Homo sapiens: one gene and its partner. The protein of the gene in region 1 purifies or fractionates together with the protein of each later gene. This does not show direct contact. Each region holds a gene or a part of one and is shown on either strand. Other genes may lie near its edges. The genes, in order: SCML1 and RMP64.

Region 1 (3,824 bases):
TCTTCCTGTGACAGCCCCACTCCTGGAATGTCATTCATACTTGCTGTCTCCACACCTGGCTTCCTGTTTTTCTCTCTGGGTATTTATGAACCTGCTGTTCCTTCTATGCTGTAAGCCCTTCCATGCATCCTCACCTGGCGAGGGCCTTCTCATGTTTTAATTCTCACTTCAGACCTCACCTCCTCTGAAAAGGTCTCCGTGACTGCAGCCTGGGTTAGGACTGCTTTTCTGTGCAGGCTTAGCCTCCTGTTCCCACCTGTGTCACGCCACTGGTAATAACAATAGTAACATGAAGAGACCACTGAGCACTGTTGGACCGGGTGTAGTGTAGTGCTGTTACTGTTAGTATTAACCTAATACTATAGCAAGGTTCTCGTCCTCGAGAGAACCCTGAGAGAGCTTTTCATCCTGATTCCCTACATGAGGACACTGAAGCACAGAGAGGTTAAGTAACTTGCCCTGGGTCACACAGCCAATAAGTGGCTGGACTGTAGTATTTGACCCCAACCATGTTCCCCAAGAGCCTGCACTGTTTATCTCAGTGCCGCAGCCCTGTGGTTCTCACTAGGGCCATCAGAATCACCTGGGGGGCTTGTGAAAACATAGACCACTGCCCCCACTCTCAGAGTTCCAGGTTCCATAGGTCTGGGGTACAACCTGGCATTTGGCATTTCTGATGAGCTTACAGGTGATGTTGATGCTACCAGTCCGTGGACCACACTTTGCAAACCACTGTTCCAGGCTGTTTATCACTTTGTCTGCTGGAATCCTCTTTTTACTTGTCTCTCTCCCAGCTGAGATGGTAGTTCCTCTAGGACAGGCTGGAGTGCAGTGGCTCAGTCATGGCTCACTGCAGCCACAACTTCCCAGGCTCAGGTGATTCTCCCACCTCAGCCTTCCTAGTAGCATGGACTACAGGCATGCACCACCACGCTTGGCTGATTTTGTGTATTTTTGGTAGAGACGGGGGTTTCGCCATGTTGCCTAGGCTTGTCTCCAACTCCTGAGCTCAAGCGATTCACCTGCCTTAGCCTCCCAAAGTGCTGGGATTACAGGCATGAGCCACCGCACCCGGCCAGGAGCTTTTTTTTTCGGTCCATGTTCTCAATACCTAGCAAAGTAGTTCTGCCAGGTGGTAGGCCATCAATAAAGGTTTAGTTGAATGAGTGAATGAATGAATGAATGAATGAATGAGGAAATGTTTCTGGCCCTTTGTTTAAGTGTATTTTTCTTTGCCCAAAGTTTCTGTGTATTTCAAGAAGAATTCTCAGATTTTTATCAGCCTCCTATGTGCTTGATTGCAATGTTTCTGGCCCTTTGCTTAAGTGTATTTTTCTTTGCCCAAAGTCTCTGTGTATTTCAAGAAGAATTCTCAGACTTTTATCAGTCTCCTATGTGTTCGATTGGCGCGTAAGAGATGTGTACTTAACGGTTTTGTAAGATTAATTGCTGACTGCGTGATTTAAAAATACTTTGAAGCCAAAAGTCACATCTGTTATATTTGGTTCAGTGTTCTTTCTGGAGTGGAACACTCACTGTCTGTATATAATATAGACTTCATATTTGTACATATATGAACATATATGTTACATATGTATATCATAAAGTGAGTCTTTGTTCTTTTAGCAGATTTCTTTCCTAAAATAGCACCTTCCTTGATGTGCAGTGTCTTCATCATCAATGTGCTAGCATAGAGGCATTGTGGGACATTCATTCACCAGCATTAGAGCTTCCTCAATTCCTACATGGAGTAGAGCAGGGGAGGGGACTACTCTAGCTCAGCCTGTTGGCTCTGTGTCACCTACAGCCAGGCCTTGAATAGGAGCAAGACATTTCTGATGGCTTGAGAACTTTTGTTGTGTCTAGCAGTTAACATTTGACTTAATGGTATTTTCACGTTACTTTTCTTTGAAATAAAAAATTATATTTTACATTGTATACCAATTATATGACTACATTGTATTATAATAGGTTATATATGATGCTCTGCAAAACCTGGATAAGAAGATTGATGTGATTCGTAGAAAGGTTTCAAAAATCCAACGTTTCCATGCGAGATCCCTGTGGACAAATCATGTAAGTGTTATAAAAAACATTTTTACAACTGTGATAAACCTCTGGTTTGTAAAGATGCCAATGAGCTAGAAGTGAGAGAGTACCAGTATCTGTGTGAGATTAGCAAGGCATGTCTATACTTGTAACAGTAGATGGAGACTAAACTCTGTTGGGAGAACGCTGAAGTTTAGGTTTGATAATTTATGATGCTGCCTATTTTTATGTTTGTAATTATAATGTGTAAAATACAATTAAAATGTAGGATTGAAGAATTATATAATCAAAAGGGACCATTTATTTTTAATAATGTAAAGCAATGTTGCATGGAAAATAAGTATTAATGTATTTGCTACTAATTTTATTTACTTTTTTACTCACTGTTGGTTTATGCTGTGTTTGTGTGATTTCAGAAGCGATATGGATATAAAAAGCATTCTTACCGGCTTGTTAAAAAGCTTAAACTCCAGAAAATGAAGAAAAATGAGGTTTACGAGACATTCTCCTACCCTGAAAGTTACAGCCCCACTTTACCAGTGTCAAGGCGTGAGAATAATTCCCCGAGCAACCTTCCAAGGCCATCCTTTTGCATGGAAGAATACCAGCGAGCTGAGCTGGAGGAGGACCCGATCCTCAGCCGCACTCCGAGTCCAGTGCATCCCTCAGATTTCTCTGAGCATAATTGTCAGCCGTATTATGCATCTGATGGTGCAACGTATGGTTCTTCTTCAGGGCTCTGCCTTGGCAACCCTCGGGCTGACAGCATCCACAACACTTACTCAACTGACCATGCTTCTGCAGCACCACCTTCAGGTATGCTGGCCCAGGGAGAGCCCAATTTGGTACATGCCCCTGAGATGATGAGTTACTCAGCTTTGATGGAGAATAGGTATACTGGATCATCTCTCTGCTTCCCTTCTGGTTTGGTGAGTTTGAAATGCCATATTTACAAGTAGCACTATTTGACCTATATTTATCAACATCCTTGATGCAAACTAGTGGAAGCTGTTCGTTTCCTATTTTGAGGGCTGGTTTTAGGTGATATTCAGAATGATGACTAACATTTATTCAATGCATATTATGTGCAAGGCACTGCACCAATCAGCTGACATGCCTCTTCTCCACTTATACTCATAATGACCCCATGGTTTTGGCACATTTATTACGCCATCCCCACGATCACAGAGCTGGTGAGTAGCACTTCTAGAACTCTGCCCCATTGTGCTTTTCCAAATCTTCTATTTTTATTTACCCTTTCCCTAGATAAATAAAAAACACTCCTGATATGGCAAGAGCCCAGATGGTAGGGAAGAAAGGGTATGTTTTTGGCTAATTCACACACACAAAAAGATCAAATTGTGTTGATGGTCCTGGTTGGAGAAACAAATTTTCCTAACTAATTACAAAACCCACTTTAGTCATCACACACTAATTTTAGGGAGTCTAACACTGTGGGTGAGTAAAAGGATACTTGTCAGTACACAAAGAAATTTCAACACAACTTAGTGTAGAGCATAGCTAAAACTTTCTGAAGTATGAGCAGTTAAACTGTCTCATATCTCAGTTATTTTTTAAACATATAAACCTTTGACCAAAATCTCTATTACTATGCAATTAAACATGAAAGAGGAATTAAATAAAATGTTAGTTACTTCTGACCTAGTTCAGCAGAAAATAATCTTGTTTTCTTCACAATGCACATTAGCACTTAAGCCACGAGAGACAGGAATCTAAAAAGTAAAGCGATACTAAAAATAACCTTATTGAATACG
Region 2 (3,824 bases), on another chromosome or scaffold:
TACTGGCAGATTTTTTCATTTGTGATGTTTCCTCATGTCCACTCATTACATTATGAACAGATTAGCAGTTATGAGGGAAAAGCTCTGACACTAAAGTATAGGGTATCTCGCCATTCAGCTAATTGCTAGGCGGCTGTACTTTTGAGAGTTTGAAAGCAAAATGGGGACACATTCGTCTACACTTCAATCAGAGGGCATTTGTGCTCTCAAAAAACAGACTTGGGGTGAAATTTTTCGATGTGGTTCTGGGATTGTACACAGGCATAGGACTTGTAGATAAGTTGTGTATTTTTCTTTTCAGTTGGTAAATTAAAAGTGCTTGAGAATGTTTTTCTCATCTTAAGCCCAGATTTTTCCTCTCTCTGTCTTTTAAAGTTTGCCAAAGAAACTAGAGTGCATAAAAACGTCTATTTGCAACCACCTTCTTCGTGGCTCAGGTATCAAAACTTCAAAGCATCATCTGAGACAGAGAAGATCACAGAATAAATTTTTACGGAGACAAAGGAAACCACAGAGAAAGTTGCAGTCGACTCTTTTAAGGGAAATTCAGCAGTTCTCTCAAGGGACTCGGAAGAGTGCTACAGATACCAGTGCTAAGTGGAGACTCTCACACTGTACTGTGCATAGAACTGATCTCTACCCTAACAGTAAGCAGCTCTTGAATAGTGGAGTTTCAATGCCTGTCATACAAACTAAGGAGAAAATGATTCATGAAAATCTTAGAGGCATCCATGAAAATGAAACTGATTCGTGGACGGTGATGCAAATAAATAAAAACAGTACATCAGGAACCATTAAGGAGACAGATGACATTGATGATATTTTTGCTTTAATGGGAGTTTAGATGTTCGTTCATATGTGAGACTTTTAAGTGATTAACAAGGCTAGTTCAGTGTTCTAAGTAGAACTGCTAAGATCTGGAAGTACCACCTGGACTCACAGAGGAGCTGCTTTAGTGCAGCATTGCACAGGAGTTCATTTCAGTTCAGTCTACATTTAAAGTAGCATTGTGTCATTTCATCAACAAGTATTTCTTTTTTGGCTTCAACTACATGTCAGGTGTTAATATGAAAAATCTGCCACAGCCTACCCTTGAGAAGCAGATGTAATTCCTTGAGTGAGGCTAGTAAGTCTCTGAAAAACTGAATAATTTTATGACTTACTAGGCAATTTAATAATCGTTTGCAAAAACCATTGTGTCTTGAGGTAAATGAGGAGCGGGGGTGGGAGATAGCAAGGAAACACCTGAAAGGTCAATTTGGTCTTATTGGCTCCATTATACATAGGTCCGCCTCTGAATACTAAAGTTTGTAGCTCCTGACATTTATGTTTTCTTGTTTATATGTTGGAATTGATCAACAAGGTTTGCCACTGCTTGTATTACCAGGGACTGGTTACAACCATTATTTCTCTTCATTTGCTTGGCTTATCTCATATTAAAGTGAGTTTGGAGTTCTCCAAAACGTTTTAATTTTATTTATTTGGGTACCAGTGATTGATTCCAAATAAACCTTTTTACAAAAAGGCAATAAGGTGGTTTATGGTTACATATGAAATATAATAGGATAACAGGTAGATGAGAAAGTAAAATGAAAAAATGAGGTTAGGAGATACAAAGTAGACCCAGGAATGAGGCTAGAACATTTATAATTTGGTGTTGATGCTGTCATCTGATAGGGGATGTTGCTCGTACTGTTGCTCTGAGGGGAGTACATCTTGAGTATTTTCAAATAATGATGTGAAGTTTGAGGTAGGTATCTTTCCAATGTTCTAACTTTACTAGAATTAGGTTATTAAGCTTCTCTAGTGCCCTTAACTTTTGTTACATAGAGATTTAAAGAAAAAGAAAGTAGTACCTTAGTATGTACCGCATCCTTCTTTTCCTCAGCCACCCTATCATAACAGAAGTTATTTCCCTTCCATTCTTTATTTGGCTTTGTTCTTTCCCTGTCTGCCTTCTCCATTTTCTCAGTTATCTCTACCAGTGGTTCTCAAACTTTAGACTTTTTGAGAATCACCTGGTGGGTTGCTAAAAGATGCAGATTAGCCCTTTCCCAGAGACTGATAAACAGGGGCCAGAAACCTGCATTTTTAACATGGAGCCCAAGTGATTTTGATCCAGGTGGCCCCCAAATCCAGTTATATAAACACTACTTTAGCTTCTCTCCTGAAGCCTTAAGTAAACTGGTTTAATTCTTAATCTGTAGTCAGTTTTCATATTCCTTTTGGCTTTCTACCAAGTGGTAGTATCCATTTAGTGCCTTAAAATACAGACAATACCAAGGAGATTTCATTCTAGACAAGTCTAGAAATGGCCATTAACTTCTAAGTGTCCTTGTGTTCAATGAATATCCTTTACCTATTGGGAAATAGAAGGTAAATTAGTAAGAGAACTGGTGTATAGCTTTGTGGACCATAGGGCTTATTTGCTGAGAGTTGTCTATATTCATGCACCCAGTCCCCTAAGTAGCCTCTTTTAATACTTCATTTAGCTGATTCAGAAAAAAACTCCCTGGGAATTAGGAGATTTAAGGTTCAGTCTTGCTTCTCCTACTTGTGGCTTCACTGAGCTAGTCAGTTTCCTCAGGCTTAGGTTTCTGGATTTGAAGTGGAATTTTTTCAAGAATGAAACTTTTATAGCTGAAATAAACTTTGGAGCTTATCTTTCATTGGAAAAACCAGGGTGGTTCAGTGAGTTAAGGACAATATAGCATGGACTGGGCTGCCAGTCTAGCATTTGTTTCCAAATTCATTCATGTTCTTTTGGAGTATCTTCATCTCCTCTCATTTTCCCATCTTCTGCCCTTTACTATTCTGGGAAAATGGCAAAAAAGCTTCACATGTGTCCACAAAATGACAATTTGTATGTTTATAAGGAATTCAGTATTCTGTATCAGTTACTTTTTCCAAATAAATCCAAATATTTAACATTTAAAAAAATGCAATCTAAAGTATACCAAACTGTAACTTACCTAGTAAATGAGATTAGAAACTATTGTCAGGGTCATCGTAGTGAATTATTATTATTATTATTTTTTGAGACAGAGTCTTGTGCTGTTGCCCAGGCTGGAGCACAGTGGTATGATCTCAGTTCACTGCACCCTCCACCTCCTGGGCTCAAGCTATTCTCCCACCTCAGCCGCCTGAGTAGCTGACACTATAGGCACCACCATGCCCTGGCTAATTTTTTAAAAACTTTGTGTAGAGATAGGGTTTCACCATGTTGCTTAGGCTGGTCTCAAACTCCTGGACTCAAGGGATCCACCCACTTTGGTCTCCCAAAGTGCTGGGATTACCCACATCCTAGTACCAACTTTATCACTTCTGATGGCATTAGGACACACAGGCCATTTATAAGAGCAGTGTTTGAGACCTCCTGTGTGTCACTTCCAATCCTCTTGGCCTTCATACTAAAGTCACTGCTGTGGCAACCAGTTTCAAGCAGGGCTGAACCTTGCCTCTTGCTCTGGGGATGTCTCACTTCCTGCCCCTGGGCTTCTCACCAGCTACAGGAACTGCCTAGCACTTGGGTATGTACAACCTGGAAGAGGTGTGGGGCCACCCCATCCCCTCCTCAAAGAAATTCACAGGCACAGTATGAGGCTAAAGTAACTTCCATCTTGGATGCTAATCTACCATGTTGACTTCTGATAACCAGTTCCTGGAATGCCCTCTAAGATTTCTACTTTTATCTATTAAAAGAACACACACACACACACACACTGTAAATCCTGGCCTTAAGCAAGTTATAGGCTAAGTTGTAAACAGCATTCTTGCCTTTCCCTGAGGAGGTGACTTCAGTGTCTCACATGTTCCTTCATGTA

What was found.
Region 2: the proteins of SCML1 (region 1) and RMP64 purify together in Homo sapiens (affinity purification with mass spectrometry, with the first as the bait; one large-scale study listed by BioGRID). This does not show direct contact.

What each region holds. Positions count from the first base shown.
Region 1 is NC_000023.11:17,747,429-17,751,252, forward strand, and holds part of SCML1 (sex comb on midleg-like protein 1), read left to right. Parts: intron 1-1,971; coding exon 1,972-2,076; intron 2,077-2,465; coding exon 2,466-2,865; intron 2,866-3,824. UniProt on the Homo sapiens protein: Putative Polycomb group (PcG) protein. PcG proteins act by forming multiprotein complexes, which are required to maintain the transcriptionally repressive state of homeotic genes throughout development.
Region 2 is NC_000003.12:113,002,556-113,006,379, reverse strand, and holds part of RMP64 (nucleolus and neural progenitor protein), read left to right. Parts: intron 1-349; coding exon of another isoform or gene 350-375; coding exon 376-844; 3' UTR 845-3,824. UniProt on the Homo sapiens protein: May play a role in cortex development as part of the Notch signaling pathway. Downstream of Notch may repress the expression of proneural genes and inhibit neuronal differentiation thereby maintaining neural progenitors.